Linked DNA regions of Homo sapiens. The protein of the gene in region 2 interacts with the protein of the main gene of each other region in a pairwise test. Each region holds a gene or a part of one and is shown on either strand. Other genes may lie near its edges.

What was found. The genes of interacting proteins can lie anywhere in the genome.
Region 1: the proteins of NUP58 (region 2) and DCTN3 interact in binary tests that used the Homo sapiens proteins (3 or more experiments, as listed by UniProt).

The regions. Positions count from the first base shown.
Region 1 is NC_000009.12:34,612,529-34,618,459, reverse strand, and holds the end of DCTN3 (dynactin subunit 3), read left to right. Parts: intron 1-488; coding exon 489-575; intron 576-2,346; coding exon 2,347-2,430; intron 2,431-3,691; coding exon 3,692-3,750; intron 3,751-4,261; coding exon of another isoform or gene 4,262-4,358; coding exon 4,359-4,418; intron 4,419-4,558; coding exon of another isoform or gene 4,559-4,588; coding exon 4,589-4,678; 3' UTR 4,679-4,914; downstream 4,915-5,931. UniProt on the Homo sapiens protein: Part of the dynactin complex that activates the molecular motor dynein for ultra-processive transport along microtubules. Together with dynein may be involved in spindle assembly and cytokinesis.
Region 2 is NC_000013.11:25,324,515-25,333,606, forward strand, and holds part of NUP58 (nucleoporin p58/p45), read left to right. Parts: intron 1-474; coding exon 475-554; intron 555-2,401; coding exon 2,402-2,520; intron 2,521-2,915; coding exon 2,916-2,998; intron 2,999-6,842; coding exon 6,843-7,044; intron 7,045-9,092. UniProt on the Homo sapiens protein: Component of the nuclear pore complex, a complex required for the trafficking across the nuclear membrane.

The sequences.
Region 1 (5,931 bases), on a different chromosome or scaffold from region 2:
TGAAATAAGAGCTCTACCTGAAAGCTTCTCTTGGTGAAGGAGGGTAAAAAGGGTATGGGATTTCCCAGGCAAGGTTAAGGGGCAGGAAACAAATTAGACACTGAGATCCTGGTTATGTCAGAACTAGTAACCTGCTTAGTAACTAGAAATTAGACAAAGCTCTGGCTTGTCTCGGTGACATCTAGGAGAAAAGAGGCCTTCTACCCTTGGTGAGGATAGGTCAGTGAGAATGCTAAGGGCCCAGAGTGGTGGTGGCAATTGTGTTTTCAGCTCTGAAGCTTGATGTCAGAAGAGACTTCAAGAGAAGAGAGTGGAGAGATAGGGAAGTGGGGATAGGGAGCCTGGTGGAGCCCTGCTCATGTGGCACTGTTGGGTATCAGCTCCTCATTGAAGGCTCTCCTCAAGGCTGACCACTTGTCAAACATCCTTCATAAGGCAGAGCTCTACTGCCCAACCCTATTCCATTTTCCATCTTGCTACTTTTCTAGTTGAAGATCTGATCAAGTACCTGGATCCTGAGTACATCGACCGCATTGCCATACCTGATGCCTCTAAGCTGCAATTCATCCTAGCAGGTAATGCTGGACTACATGTGTACATGCATCTGAGGATGTGGGTCGTCGGGGAGGTTAAGCACAGAGATGGCCTCTCCATCCAGTCTTCTGGTGGATACAAGCCCTGGATGCTGCTCTCTGGAATTGTGGCCTGGTTCTGGGTTGAGGATCCTATGGATCCTCTAGTAGACATTGAGTACAGTATACCTCTGCACCAGCTGCAGGCCATGGTGCCAGCCACAGTGGGAGCTAGTCCAGTGTTCTATCAATAGTTTGCCTCTTGGATTTTCCTTCAGAACCTTCCTCACTTCTGCTCACTAGACAGAGGAGCTTCTAGGAAAGGGTAGGGGCAGAGAGCATTGCCATTAAAGAACAGAGAGAGTATTGGCATGAGTTTCAACATCTTTCTTTCATGTGAGAAAGCTCTGCAGTGTCAGAGTTCTAGGCAGGAACTATTGCCTTGGCAATGTCTGCTAATCAGTCAGCCATTCTATAAGCTAGGGTTTTTTGAGCTTCGTTATTCATCCAAAAGATGTATAATGATCATCTACTCTGATCCAGGTTCTTTCCTAAGTGAGGAAGCATACAGTGGTGAACCAGAAAGTCCCTGCCCTCATGGGCACAGCCAGAGCTAGGGGAGACAGGGTCCCTGCTTCAGGGACCTGAGCTTATAACCCAGATGGGAGATCAGTCTCCCAGGAGACTGATCAGTGCAATGCAGCACTGAGGACTGGGTAAGGATGGGCCACTCCTGCTAAAAGGGCTGTCAGAGTTCCCAAAGGGCTCTTGGTCAATTGCCATCGCTCAAGCACCAAGTTTAGATATTCTCCTGCACTGACTCTTGAGTCCAGCCTCTCCATCCCTCCCTGTGGCACTGCCTCAGGAATTGTGCATCCACTTGCATATGAATGGTTGCACAGTCTCCTAAATCATACTCTTGACCCTAATCTTTCCCTTCCTGCATGTGGTTCAGTCTCACCCTCACAAAAACATGTTCCCAACATGTCACTTTGCCTACTTTGGAACCTCAGTGTATCCTGCCTTGCTAGGATAAAGTCCTAATTCCATAGTCTGCCATTCAAAGCCTTTCAGTCGGCCGGGTCTACCCTCCCATCCAACTCTGTTTCCTGTGCTCTCCCTACTCCAGTTCAGCTAATTGAATTCTTTCTCCTCTACTAATTGACAGGCATTCCTGCCTCTAAGCATTTGCACGTAACAGTCCTCTCTCTTGAATACCCTTCCCACTCTATGGATTTCAGTGCATTGAAATCCCGTGTGCATACAGGGCCTAGCCCAGATCCTGCTCTCCTCACTGGACTCTTCCATTACTGTCCCAGCTCTCCTCCAGCATATAATTGTCTATGCCTCTGAGAGCCACTGAGCAGAACCTGCCTGGCGTAGTCTGCCACATATCTCTTTTAGACCTTCCTGGGGACCCTTGGGTGTGGGGATCCAAGTCTGAAGTATTTTGTATTTTGTGGCCTAGGAGGTGCTCCCTGAGTTTGTTGATAGGAGGCTAGAAGAAGAGGTCTTGAAGTTAAACCTTGGAGAAAGGTGGGATTTGGAGAAATTGAGAGGCTCATTAGGCTCAGATGGGTCAGACCTGAGGCATCCAGGAGAGTTGGGGGCAGGATGGAAATGTGCACCTAGAGAAGGGGGCAGTGGACAGAGTCACTGTCCAAAGCTCTAGGACCTAGCCATCTCCCTTGCCAGGTCCTCAGGCCCTTACATGGGCTGATTAGCAATGCCCAGGTTTGCTTCACTGCAACTATCTTGTCCATTTTTGCTTTAGAGGAGCAGTTTATCCTTTCCCAGGTTGCACTCCTGGAGCAGGTGAATGCCTTGGTGCCCATGCTGGACAGTGCTCACATCAAAGGTATCTCTCTGGGGTTATAGCTTCACTACTCTGGTTGGGGAGGTAGGTGGATGGATGGGCAAGACTTTCCTGTGTTTCAGGTTGTGTGGATTCGGGTTGGGTCTGTTCCTTATCTTTTTTTTTTTTTTTTGGACAGAGTCGTACTCTGTCACCCAGGCTGGAGTGCAGTGGCATGATCTTGACTCACTGCAACCGCTGCCTCCTGGTTCAAACAAACTTCCCACCTTGCCTCCCAAGTAGCTAGGATTACAGGTGTGTGCCACCACACCTGGCTATTTTTAGTAGAGACGGGGTTTCACCATGTTGTCCAGGCTGGTCTCAAACTCCTGGCCCCATGTGATCCACCTGCCTCGGCCTCTCAGAGTGCTGGGATTACAGGCGTGAGCTACTGTGCCTGGCCTGTTCCTTATCTTTATCCTCACCCTGAGGTACTTGCCACATCCACCAATTAAAATTACCAGGATAGAGAGCCCAGTTTTAGGACCTCAGGCAATTTGGGCCTGAGAACACTAGCCTAAGCTCTAGCAGTCCCCAGCTCTGGGGATTCCTTCTGCCTTCTACCTACCCCCAAGCATCTCTTCTTCAAGGTGCTGCAGAACCCAGATTTTACTATCAGAGTCTCTGCCAGGTCCATGAATGTATGTGAATTCTTTCTGCTGCACTGCTGAGAGCAGTCCCTGGGCCTGGACTTTGACAAGCAGATAGTGGCTTTAATTGAATCCAGATATCCATCTTGTCTGTCTGTGGAGGTATTTTTCCCAGCTCCCCCTCCCTACCCCTGATCAGCTGCCCGCTGAGTATCTGACAGCCTTAAGCTTTGAGCCCAGCATGGTGGCCAAGCCTTGGCGTGTTGGATTCCAGCTTAGGGACCTGGCATCCATCTTCAGACTCCCTGTTCCCTAAGCCAGGCAGACCTGCCCCCGCTGGGCTGAGAGCAAAGGGACAGGTCCTATAATAGCCAAAGCTCTCTTTACCTGGTCCTGCTTATAGCACTGGGGTGGGGGTAGGGAGCAACACTGGGAACCCCAAGGTTTTGTCTTCTCCTCGGGACATGTATCTTCCCCTCCCCTATGGGTCCTGGAGTAAGACTGGAGTGGGCAGGGAGCCCCACTGCCACCTCCAGCTGCAGCAGTCGATGAAGTCTGGCGTTTGTTTAGCTTCTCCACTCAATACTCTAATCCTGCCAAAGACCTAATAGACTATTGAGCAGTCCCGGGGGAGGGCACAAGCATCATCCAGCAGTGTGTGTTGTGTTTTACAGCCGTTCCTGAGCATGCTGCCCGCCTGCAGCGCTTGGCCCAGATCCACATTCAGCAGCAGGTATGGGAGGGGAGATGACTAGAAGCGAAGATGGAGGTGGCGCAGCACCTCATCCCAACTCATGCCACCTGGGGAAGCAGCTTCAGGCCTTTCTGTTGTAACCTCAGCAGAAACTTTGGGGTTTATCCTTTATCTTGCATATGCCCCAGGGAGGTAAAGGGACTTGCCTAGGTTCATGTACAAACTTTCTGCTTCCAGAGCAGGACTTTATTGGGACACCATAAGGTTGAGGCTGGGAGGTACCCAAGAATTCCTGGGGATGGTATGTCATTGACTGTGGGTAGAGGGGCTCTTTTTTCACTATTCCCAGGCCCTAGTGTAAAGTTCAAAGAGAGTTCAGAAATAAGGACAGAAGAAGAGACATACACTAGGGGGAATGTTTACTTAATGTATGGCCACTCCCTTTTCCATCCGTCTTTGGACTGCTGTTAGGGCACCCATCCTGGAGCCTGAAAGTGCTCCCATAGCCATTTGCTCCTTTGGCTTTGGGGTTAAGCGTCATCTTTTTTAGGCTCCATGGGGAGTGGGAGTCCGTGATGAGGCAGGAAGTTTAGTGGAAGATGTGGGCTTTGCCCAGTTCCTTTCTGTGCTACACTTTGGCCCTACAGGACCAGTGTGTGGAAATCACTGAGGAGTCCAAGGCTCTCCTGGAGGAATACAACAAGACTGTATCCTTTCTGCTCAACTAGGACCCTAATGGGTGCTGTCCCTAAGCCCTGTCCTTTTGTTCCACCTCTAGCTCTCTCTCATCCTATCCTACCCACCTATGTTTGCCTGTTCCCCACTTTCCATGAACTTCCTCACTCAGATTCCTATTCTCACCTTGACCTACAACCAGACAATGCTTCTCTCCAAGCAATTCGTGCAGTGGGATGAGCTACTTTGCCAGCTAGAGGCCGCCACGCAAGTGAAGCCAGCAGAGGAGTGATAGCTGCTCCCCATCCCAAAGTGGGCCTGGGCAGTCAGGCTCCAGGGCCCTATGCCAACCTGCCTTTGTTACAAGGCAGAGGAAGCTTTGTATTTATTGGCTTCAAGGCCCACCTCTCTGTACTCTGGGCTCTAAAGTTGGAGGTCAGGTTACCTGAGGTTTGCAATTTGCAACACCCACCCTCCCCCCAATCAGTGTTCTTATTTCAGTGACAATAAACCATAGAGATGACTGGAGGAGTGTGCTGGCTTCTTGGTCTAGGATGGAGGTGGTAGGGGGCAGAGGTGTCAGCCTGCCTAATCGTTTGACTGGGAACTAAACTCATCCTGGTCTGGCTTTCTGGCAGGTGTAGAGCTCTCAAAATGAAGGCTCTCATTTGATTATGTGAATAGGATATTCCTTTATGTATCCATTTATCCCACATTTACCAATAAGAGACCTCCAAATGTCAGATGATGGGAGTAGATAGGGCTAATCCCTGCCCTGCACGGGCTAGCAGGATAGACAGTAAAGGAAAAGGGCAGTCCTATCAGGTGGACACAGAAGAAAAAAGGGACTGAAGGGACCTGGTAAGTGATATCCAGGGACTTTCAGAGCCAAGGGAGCAGCATGTGCAAAGGCCTTTAAATTTCTCTCTTGGGAGCCTACCTGCTGCCACGAGCCGAGAAGGGCAGCCTAAGAGGTTTGGATGCAGGAAGTTTTGGTCCTGGGGAGGGGAAGTTGGGAAGTAGGGGCGCTGGGGCAAGCATGTTGAGAAACAGATTGGCACCGTAGTCCACCAAATGTTTGCTGCCCCCTTGTGGTCTCAGGGAGTGCTCTGGCTCCAGACCCTTTTTCCAACGGCCCATTGGCCGCCCCGCCTTTGCGACCTCTCCGGCACCTCAAATTCAGCGTGTCCAAACCGATCTGAAACCTGGGAGTCACCCTAGATCGGAATTTCCTACTTCTCCGTCCAAACAGTGGCCAACTCGTCACTGAACCTACTAGTATCTCCCAACTTAATCTTTTTTCCATTCCCACCGCGATTTCTCTGGTTCATTAATGTAACAAATCATTTAACAAATATTGAGCGCCGGTCATACGCCAGGCACCATACTAGGCTCCGTGGGCACCCCCGCCCCCTCAGCCCCCAGACTCCGCGGCAGGTGTCGTCAGGGGCTGTGGCCCGATTTCCCCACCACTCCCTCCTCGGCTCCCTGCACAAGATCTGGTTCGACTGGCCCCTGGAAAACCCGGAAAACCCCCGTGGTCCG
Region 2 (9,092 bases):
AAAGAGAAACATTCCCTACATTGTAATGTTGTCCTTGAGAAGTAACTTTTAGCATAGTGTTTGGTACATAGCAAGCACCCAAATGTTAATTGTGCCTGCCTCAGCCTCAACATTATTATTGCCACCTGCCTTTTAAAAAAAAAAAGTATTTTCTGCGTTTATATTAATGATTTTAAGTAGTAGTATAATCTTTACGCTGTAAATGAATTCACTTCGTGAATCCTACAGAAATCTATAGTTTTAAAAATAGATCTACAGCTCTTTATAAGTTTGTTAAAACTGTAATTTGTCTGCTCTTGAAAGGTTTTAGCAACTTGTGAAGCAGCTTCATCCATAATATGTTCTTATAGCATGAACCTCCAAGGTATTGTTTGAAGTTTCAGTCCAGAGACTGAATATTTTTTTTCGTACGGTATTTTTAACATAACTCTTAACTGGCTTTTTTTTTTTTTTTTAAATCCTCTGGTATATTAGGAGTTGAAGAATGCTGAAATAGCTTTAAGAACCCAGAAGACACCACCTGGACTTCAACATGAATATGCAGCTCCTGCTGAGTAAGTTGCTGGATTTTTAAAAACAAATGTTTCTCACTTTCAGAAAGCAGAACAGTAATAATAGTATACAAACTAAATATTTTTAGTATACTATGTGGAAAGGCTGAGCCAATAAGCACTTTACATGGATTTTAAATTTCATAATAACCCTAAAAAGGTTTATCTCCATTAACACCATTTGACTGCAGGGTAAGTGAAGGCTAAGATCTGAGCTTTTCACCACTATTACGCATTTATACTTCATGTACATATTACTTACAGAGTCTACTCCATTTTATTAAATTTTACTGGTAATGGAAAATTACCATTATTCATTTAAATAGGTAATACGTGTTCTGGAAGAAAAATTAGAAAATATACATAAGTAGAAGAAAAAACCAACCTGTAATCACATCACTCAGCTTGTATATATACATTTGGCTTTCATACATGTAAAATATATCTTGCCTGTTTATGTCCTTCCATGTTGATGAAGATAATAATAACTGATGTTTACCAAATGCTTACTATTTCCCATGCAGTGTGCTTAGGACTATACATGCTTTACCTTCATATTTCACAAGATCTCTGTAGCTGTTGTTATTCCAGTTTTAGCGATAAAGAGACTGAGGTATGCAAAAGTGAGTTGAGTGGTGGAGGTCTGTTTGATTCCTGGTCCCTCACAATTAATTAATTAACTTGTAGAGATGCCATTTCACAGTGTTGCCTAGGCTGGTCCTAGGCTAAAGTGATTCTCCCGCCTCAGACTCCTAAAGTGCTGGGATTACAGATGTGAGCCACCACGCCTGGCCCCTTACTTATTTTATTCTTTTAGTTTTTTATTATAATTTTGGTCTACAGAAAAGTTTCAAGATGAGAACTAAAAATTCCTGTATGCCTTTCATTCCAATTTCCTACATATTAACATTTTTACCATATTTTTGTTCCTCACATTCTATGTGTGTATATACATTTCTCCCCCAAACAGTTTGGGTTATTTGCAGAAATAATGTTCACTATGCTAAAGTACTTCAGTGGATATTTCTTAAAAATAAGGATATTCTCATACTTAACAGTTCTCAAAATCAGGAAATTCATAATGCCCATGATATTCGTCTTACTCAGGTTGGCATGAGATGTGCTTCCTCACTGGACTTCCTCTACTATTTTATCCCTCTGTCTTGTACTTAATACTGCCATCAGAGCTAATTTTGCAAAATGCATTCATGGTTGCCCATTGTTTACTGAAAGACATTCAGATTCCTCTGTATACTATTCAAGATACCTTCTTTTTTTTTTTTTATCTGTCTAGCACTCTCTGTGGGTAAATTTATTAGAAAAGTAGCAATAATTACATGTGCTTTCTGTAGTATACTATGGTGTTCTCAGATTATAAATTTCATTGATAAAATGACTATAAATTCTTAATTCTGAAATCTGGTTGGTAGACGTTTCTACTTTATTTTAAATTTATTTTAACCTTACAGAAAACTTCCAAAATAGTAGTACAGAGAATTTATTTATATCGCTTCCCTTGCTTCCCCTAATGTTAACTTATAACTATAGTATAATTACCAAGAACAGGAAACTAAAATTGTTACAATATTATTAACTAAACTACTAAACTTACTGAAATTCAACCAGTTTTTCCACTAGTGTACTTCTGTTTCAGCATCCTATTTGGGATTCACAGTGCATTTGTAATTTCTCCTTAATATCTTCCAGTCACAGTTATTCAGTCCTTCCTTTCCTTGGATAACCTTGATACTTTTGAAGACTATTAAATGATTGCAGAATATTCCTTAATTTGGATTTGTCACTCCAAATTAAAAAAATATTTGATCTGACTTTTTAAATGTTTTTTAAAGCTACTTCAGAATCTTGGTTCAGCAATTTGAGGTACAGCTTCAGCAGTACAGGCAGCAGATTGAAGAACTAGAAAACCATCTTGCCACTCAAGCAAATAATTCACATATAACCCCTCAAGGTAACATGCTTACTGTGGTAATTTTTTTTGAACTTTTGTTTGTAGGAGATAGATGTGGTTATATAATAGGTATTTTGGATAACTACTGGTAGCCCCTTTAAGAAAATTTCCTTAAAAGTCATTTACTACTCCTTTATTCCCTATAAATATAATATGCTTTATTATATGAATTGTTACTGTGGTAACAAGGACAGAAATCTTAGGGCCTTCCCCCCAGATTTCTTTTGTAGACATTCAGTCTGCTACTCTGTGTGTTCTCTGGCCATGAGAACGTTGATAGAGTTTTTTTCTCCTACACGTTAACTGTGCCAAAAATTGGACTCAAATAGAAAAATAAAATGGATTGTGCTATATATATGTATATATTTGGGTGATAATGTAATTTTCTTTTATAGATTTGTCAATGGCTATGCAGAAAATTTATCAAACATTTGTAGCTTTAGCGGCACAACTTCAGTCTATTCATGAAAATGTAAAGGTAAGTTTTCATTACCCATTTATCTACCTGGATATGTAGACCCAAGTATTTGTTCATCTGGGGACAAATGTGTCCATGCTTGATACAGAAATAGCTAAAATTACATATAAGTGAAAAGATGAAAACTACTATAATCCATAACATACCCAGACATAACGATTGATAATACCTGTTCTTTTAAAAAAGATCCAAGTACGCTGTAGTCTGTTATTATAACTTTTTTTTAAGCAGTGCATTGTGAATAACTTTCTATGTTAATACACATATTTCCTGAATATCATTTTTAATAGTTAACATAGGAGTTTGTTGTATGGTTGTACATTGTTTAACCCATTTTCTGTTGGATATTTAGGTGGTTTCTATTTCTTTACTACTATAAATAGCACTATAGAAAATAGGCATTCTTAGTCAGGCACAGTGGCTTACACCTGTAATCCCAGCACTTTGGGAGGCCGAGGCGGGCGAATCACAAAGTCAGGAGTTCAAGACCAGCCTGGCCAATATGGTGAAACCCCGTCTCTACTAAAATTACAAAAATTAGCCGGGTATGGTGGCGGGCACTTGTAGTCCCAGCTACCTGGGAGGCTGAGGCAGGAGAATCGCTTGAACCCAGGAGGTGGAGGTTGCAGTGAGCCGAGATCACACCACTGCACTCCAGCCTGGGCAACAGAGCAAGATTCCATCTCAAAAAAAAAGAAAATAAGCATTCTTAGTAGCAAATGATTTTGTACTACCTTAATTTTATCTGTTTTAAGTGTTTATTGGCCACTGCATTAAAAACCGGCTTACAGCATTTCTCCCTTTTAAATACAGGGAACTGTTTGTGTTTATTAAATAGTGTAAATAAAATGATTTATCACTGAATATTTAGACTGACTCTCGCTTTTTTTTTTTTTTTTTTGAGACAGACTCTTGCTCTGTCGCCCAGGCTGGAGTTCAGTGGCATGATCTTGGTTCACTGCAACCTCCACCTCCTGGGTTCAAGTGATTCTCATGCCTCAGCCTCCTGAATAGCTGGGACTACAGGCACGTGCCACCATGCCTGGCTAATTTTTTGTATTTTTAGTAGAGACAGGGTTTTGCCATGTTGCACAGGCTGGTCTCGAACTACTAAATTCAGGCAATCCTCCCTCCTCGGCCTCCCAAAGTGCTAGGATTTATGGGCATGAGCCACTGCACCCAGCCTGAATATTTTGACTCTCATAATAACGTTAGTTTTAAAAATGTATTTAAGTGAAATGTTCAAGGTAAGTACATCTTTTCTAACTAACTGAGCAAATGTAATTAAACTCTTTAATCTTGGAGTGTATGTGGTCCAAAATACCTTTAAAATTCAAGCAGCGAAACCTGAGTCTAGATAAATTATCAACTGTGTAGAATAGAGTTTAATTGGAATTATCAACATTTTCATTTTTATTTTGATTTCATGCATAGTAACAGGATTTTTTTAAGTAAACCATTTAAATTACACCATTTTTGAAATGGTAGTGCACTTTAGACCTTTTGCTTTAGTAGATTTAAAACTGTAACCCAAATCTTTAAATTTTGTTCTAAAGGAGGAATTTTATCAGATTTAAAAAAATTCTATTAGTCTATAATAAATGTTACTTTAATTTTTTAATAAAATTAATGTATGGCACTTTGAAGTCCGTTGCACAGAATTCTTTTCCTTAATTTTTATTATGAAATCTTTCAAATATACACAAAAGTAGGCTATCATTATACTGAATGCCCAGGTATGACTACCTAATTGCAACCATTATCAAAACCCTGCTGAACTTGTTTTATCAATGCTCCACAGAAGATGCTTTTTTTCCCCCCACGAAGTATTTCAGAGCAAATGCCAGGTGTAAACGTACATTTTTTTTAGCAGCACTGTCTCCTCTCTGGTTTGGAAAATATATCATTTTTGGTAATATGACCATAAAACAGTGAGACCAAGACCACATAAAACTGCCCTAGATCACGTCAAATAAACGTTGTAGACATGAAATTTTGACCTACTCTTTAAGCAACCCAGGAACGAAAGGATATTCCCAAGAACCAAAGAATATTTTATAATCAGATTTGGTATGTTGCCATTATTTTTAGCTTAGTTTAGTGAGCAAACTAAGCTCTAGGTTTCTTTATTTCTTGTAGAAATCTCACAAGACATTTTTTTGTTCGTTTTGTTTTTCATTAGGTAATCTGTTGAAACAGGCGTTAACTATTCTATCCAGCCAGGCCTCAGGAACATTAACACATTTGGAAGTTTTAGCAATTTGTTTTATAAATCATGGCTGATGTCAAGGTTTTTGTTTGTTTGTTTTATTATTTTGTTTTGTTTTGTTGAGAAGGGCTTGCTCTGTTGCCTATGCTAGAGTGCAGTGGCGTAATCATGACTCATTGCAGCCTCAATCTCCTGGGCCCAAGCGATCCTCCCGCCTCAGGCTCAGCCTCTTGAGTAGCTAGGACTACAGGCATGCACCACCACACCTAGCTAATTTTTTAACTTTTTGTAGAGAGGGGCACTTGCTGTGTTGTCCAGGCTGATCTTAACTCCTGGCCTCAAGGAGTCCTCCTGCCTAGACCTCCCTAAGGGCTGGGATTATAGGTGGGAGCCACCGCGGCCAGGCTGTTTCTTTTAACTAATGGTCTTGGTCTTAAGTTTCTAAGGTGGATCATTATTTTCCATTATCTGAAGTAGAACTAAAATTTATGGGATACTGATGCTTGCCCAGGACAAGGAAGGGTGGATTTGCAAGAGATCGGTAGTGCTTGTTTTTCTTACATCATATGTCTTGATTCTGGCTTTGTATCTTCCCCAGTATCCAGTTCTTGGCAGGCCCCCTTTTTTAATACATCATAAATGTAGCAAAGTTTGGAATTGGAACATCAAACACTGACATCCACACAAAAAGGGCGATGATAGCTTTTAAATACTATAAACAACAGTAAGATTTTTAAGTGCTGTATTTGTTATAATCAGAACCTAATGTTTACTAATTTCTGCTAAGAAATGTAAGAAATATGAAAAATCTGTGTCTCTTCAAAAAGTGGTTAAAAACCTATCTAAATTAGGCTAAATCTTCAATGAAAGCATAAAATAATTCTAAAGTGAAACAGAATTGTTGCTGTTGATGGCCTTAATCAAAGCAGATGCTGCATTGGGTAAAAGCAGCTCACTTTATGAACTTGGGAATTTTTCTTACTCTGGAGTTACAAACACTTTTTTTCTTTGAGGCGGGTGGTTGGGTTCATAACTTTAACATGAATCAAGTCTCATTGTACAATGGTCAAATAATAGCAATAAAGTAGAAGCCCTCATCATACCCTCCAACCACTGCTGAGGTGCAACACCTTATTTTAGCATGTGTTACCCAGGCCTTCTAAAAAATGTATTTAAAAGTATGTATATTTAGTGCTGACTTTTTTTTCTTTCTTTTTTTTTTAAACTGTTTTAATCAAAAGGCTATGAAAAGGTTGGACATTTGAGGGGAAAGTTTCTTGAAAAACTGGAATATTTATTTTTAAATTCTTTTCATCCATCCATCTGCACATTGATGGAGTATTTAAATATTACTCTGTCTAAAAGCTTAGCTGATTTATTTTAAACAAGGCCTCACAAAGACAGTATTTTAGGAAGCATATTGTAAAGATAGGGAGTAAACTATTCAAGGGAGCAGTAGAACTCTTGAACTCATCATTTCCTACACCAAAGTGCATTATTAGCACTCTAATTTGCAGTTTGGATTGAATGTATAATATTGGGACTGTCTTTGGTAATTTATGGTTATATTCATCCACATATTAACCATAGTCAATGTGAAACTTCATTTAGCCGTTTTGTTTATTATTCTTTTAGGTTCTGAAAGAACAGTACCTTGGCTACAGGAAAATGTTCTTGGGAGATGCTGTTGATGTGTTTGAAACAAGGCGAGCAGAAGCCAAGAAGTGGCAGAACACACCCAGAGTTACTACTGGACCCACTCCTTTCAGCACCATGCCAAACGCAGCAGCCGTTGCCATGGCTGCAACACTTACACAGCAGCAACAGCCTGCTACAGGTCTGAACGCATTCAAGTTATAGCTTCTTACTGTTCCAATGCAGAACATTTATGTGCGTTTTTATAAGTCTTCCATTTGTGTGAGCACTGAAGAAATTTCTATGAGTAGCTGTTCCAATACAATCTAAAATTGTGATGGACACGATTATAAACATACCTGATAAAAAAGGCAGGGTAGTCTTAGCAATAATTATACATCAATTAGATATTGAATATTGTGAATCTACTTAATGTTATTTGCTGTAATGCTATAAATGCCCTTTAGAACATGGTGTTTCACTAGTGAATTACATTTAAGAATAACATTAGATTCTGAAATCATGACTGTACCATTTATTGTTTTAAAGTCAGAGATCATCCATCCATTCTTTGAATTTTTCATATATGATACTGATAGGTGGTGCATTCTCATTTTCCTCATACATAGTGATTACAAAGTACCCACATTCAGGATGAAGTATGCTTTTATTGACTGAAGGTATGTTGAAGATCAATAGGCTTGTTTGTATGTATGTTGACTGTAAACAGAATACAAGCCCTCTAAACCAAATTTTGAAGATGATACATGCTAGAATTGTACCTTTCCAAGGTGAACAGAACAGCAAGAGCAGGAAAAAGATGTTTTGAGATGTGGATTGCACATTAAGGAGCAACTGGGAAGTTGAACAGATGAAAATAATTGGTGACATGGAAAGCAGATTGTTTTATTTCTTGGTTTAGTTACACTTCTAATTAGAGAAACATTTTTTGTGGTCATTCTACAGTGTTTTATTTGGTCCTGTGTCTTTCGGAGGTTAATAGTTATCTTAATCCTGCCATCCCTTTTGTCAGGTTTGAAGCTTGACATGGAAAAATAGTCTTAATCGATATTGATTTTTTTATTTTAATCATTCATAAATTTCTTAGTAATGCTTACTATTCAATAGCATGTGTCTTTCTGAGAGTTCCATATAGTCCAGTAGTACATTATAATACACACAAAAAAATTAATACATATTTAGATTGCATTCAAGCTACCTATACTAGGGAAGCATTCTCTGGTTTTCACTATTGGCAGTTTAAAAAATTGTTCTTCACATTTGGAGATGACAGAATTGACTTGCCATAAGTAAAGGGTTGATGATAGATTTATGCCAAATCCTCCATATCCCGTGGCTGGACCCATGTGAATAGTGGCTCGCACGAGCACTGTCTGGTAGCTCTCTAGCTGGCTGGAGTGTAGGATTGCATTGTTAAGTTATGGAGGGAAAAAGTCATTATGGGATTGATTCCTTTGAGGATTGATATTTCTTCTTAAAAGGATTCAATCCCATAATTATGACCATCAGCTCTCATGATTACCTAACCAGTTAATCAAACCAACCATAGTACTAGTTTACTTTTTAGAGCCAGTATTAATCCTAAAGTAGATAAGTGTAGATTTGGTTAAGTGTTCTTTAAACATAGTGAATTTCCATTCTATTAAATAGAACTTGAGAAATGTCAGTTATATAAAAAGTTATGTTGTAAGTGAATATATTCTATGATAAATACCTAAACTTGAAGCAAAATCTCCTGTCAAGGGTTTGTGTGTGTGTGTGTGTTTAACTTTCTTATCTATAGATTATTATTTTGAGAAATTCATAGGTTTTCACTTATACATTTTGAGCTTGTGGACATATGGAGATGTGTGTTCATTCTCTAAATGAGTGCCTACTATGTGCTGGGCTCGAGGAATACAAAGGTAGACAATATAGATTTTGTCTTTGCCCTCTGTGGTGGTTGACAATGTTAGCTTAATCTGGAGTATTCTTGAGGAGCCTTTTGCTCATAGGCTTTAATTTTGTCTGTGACTTTTGCCAGGCTTTGGGGAAATTGACTGCCTTCACTCTTCCCTGAAACTTTGAAGTCCACATAAGGGCTTTCTCATCAGATGGCAGAAATTATAATTTATTAACCTAAACAACCTTACAGTGTTTTCGCTTTGAATTGTATGAATTCTTAGAACTGAGAAGCTAAACAACAGTGATAACAATTTTACATTATCTTTTCTTTCTCCTTTTGTTTCT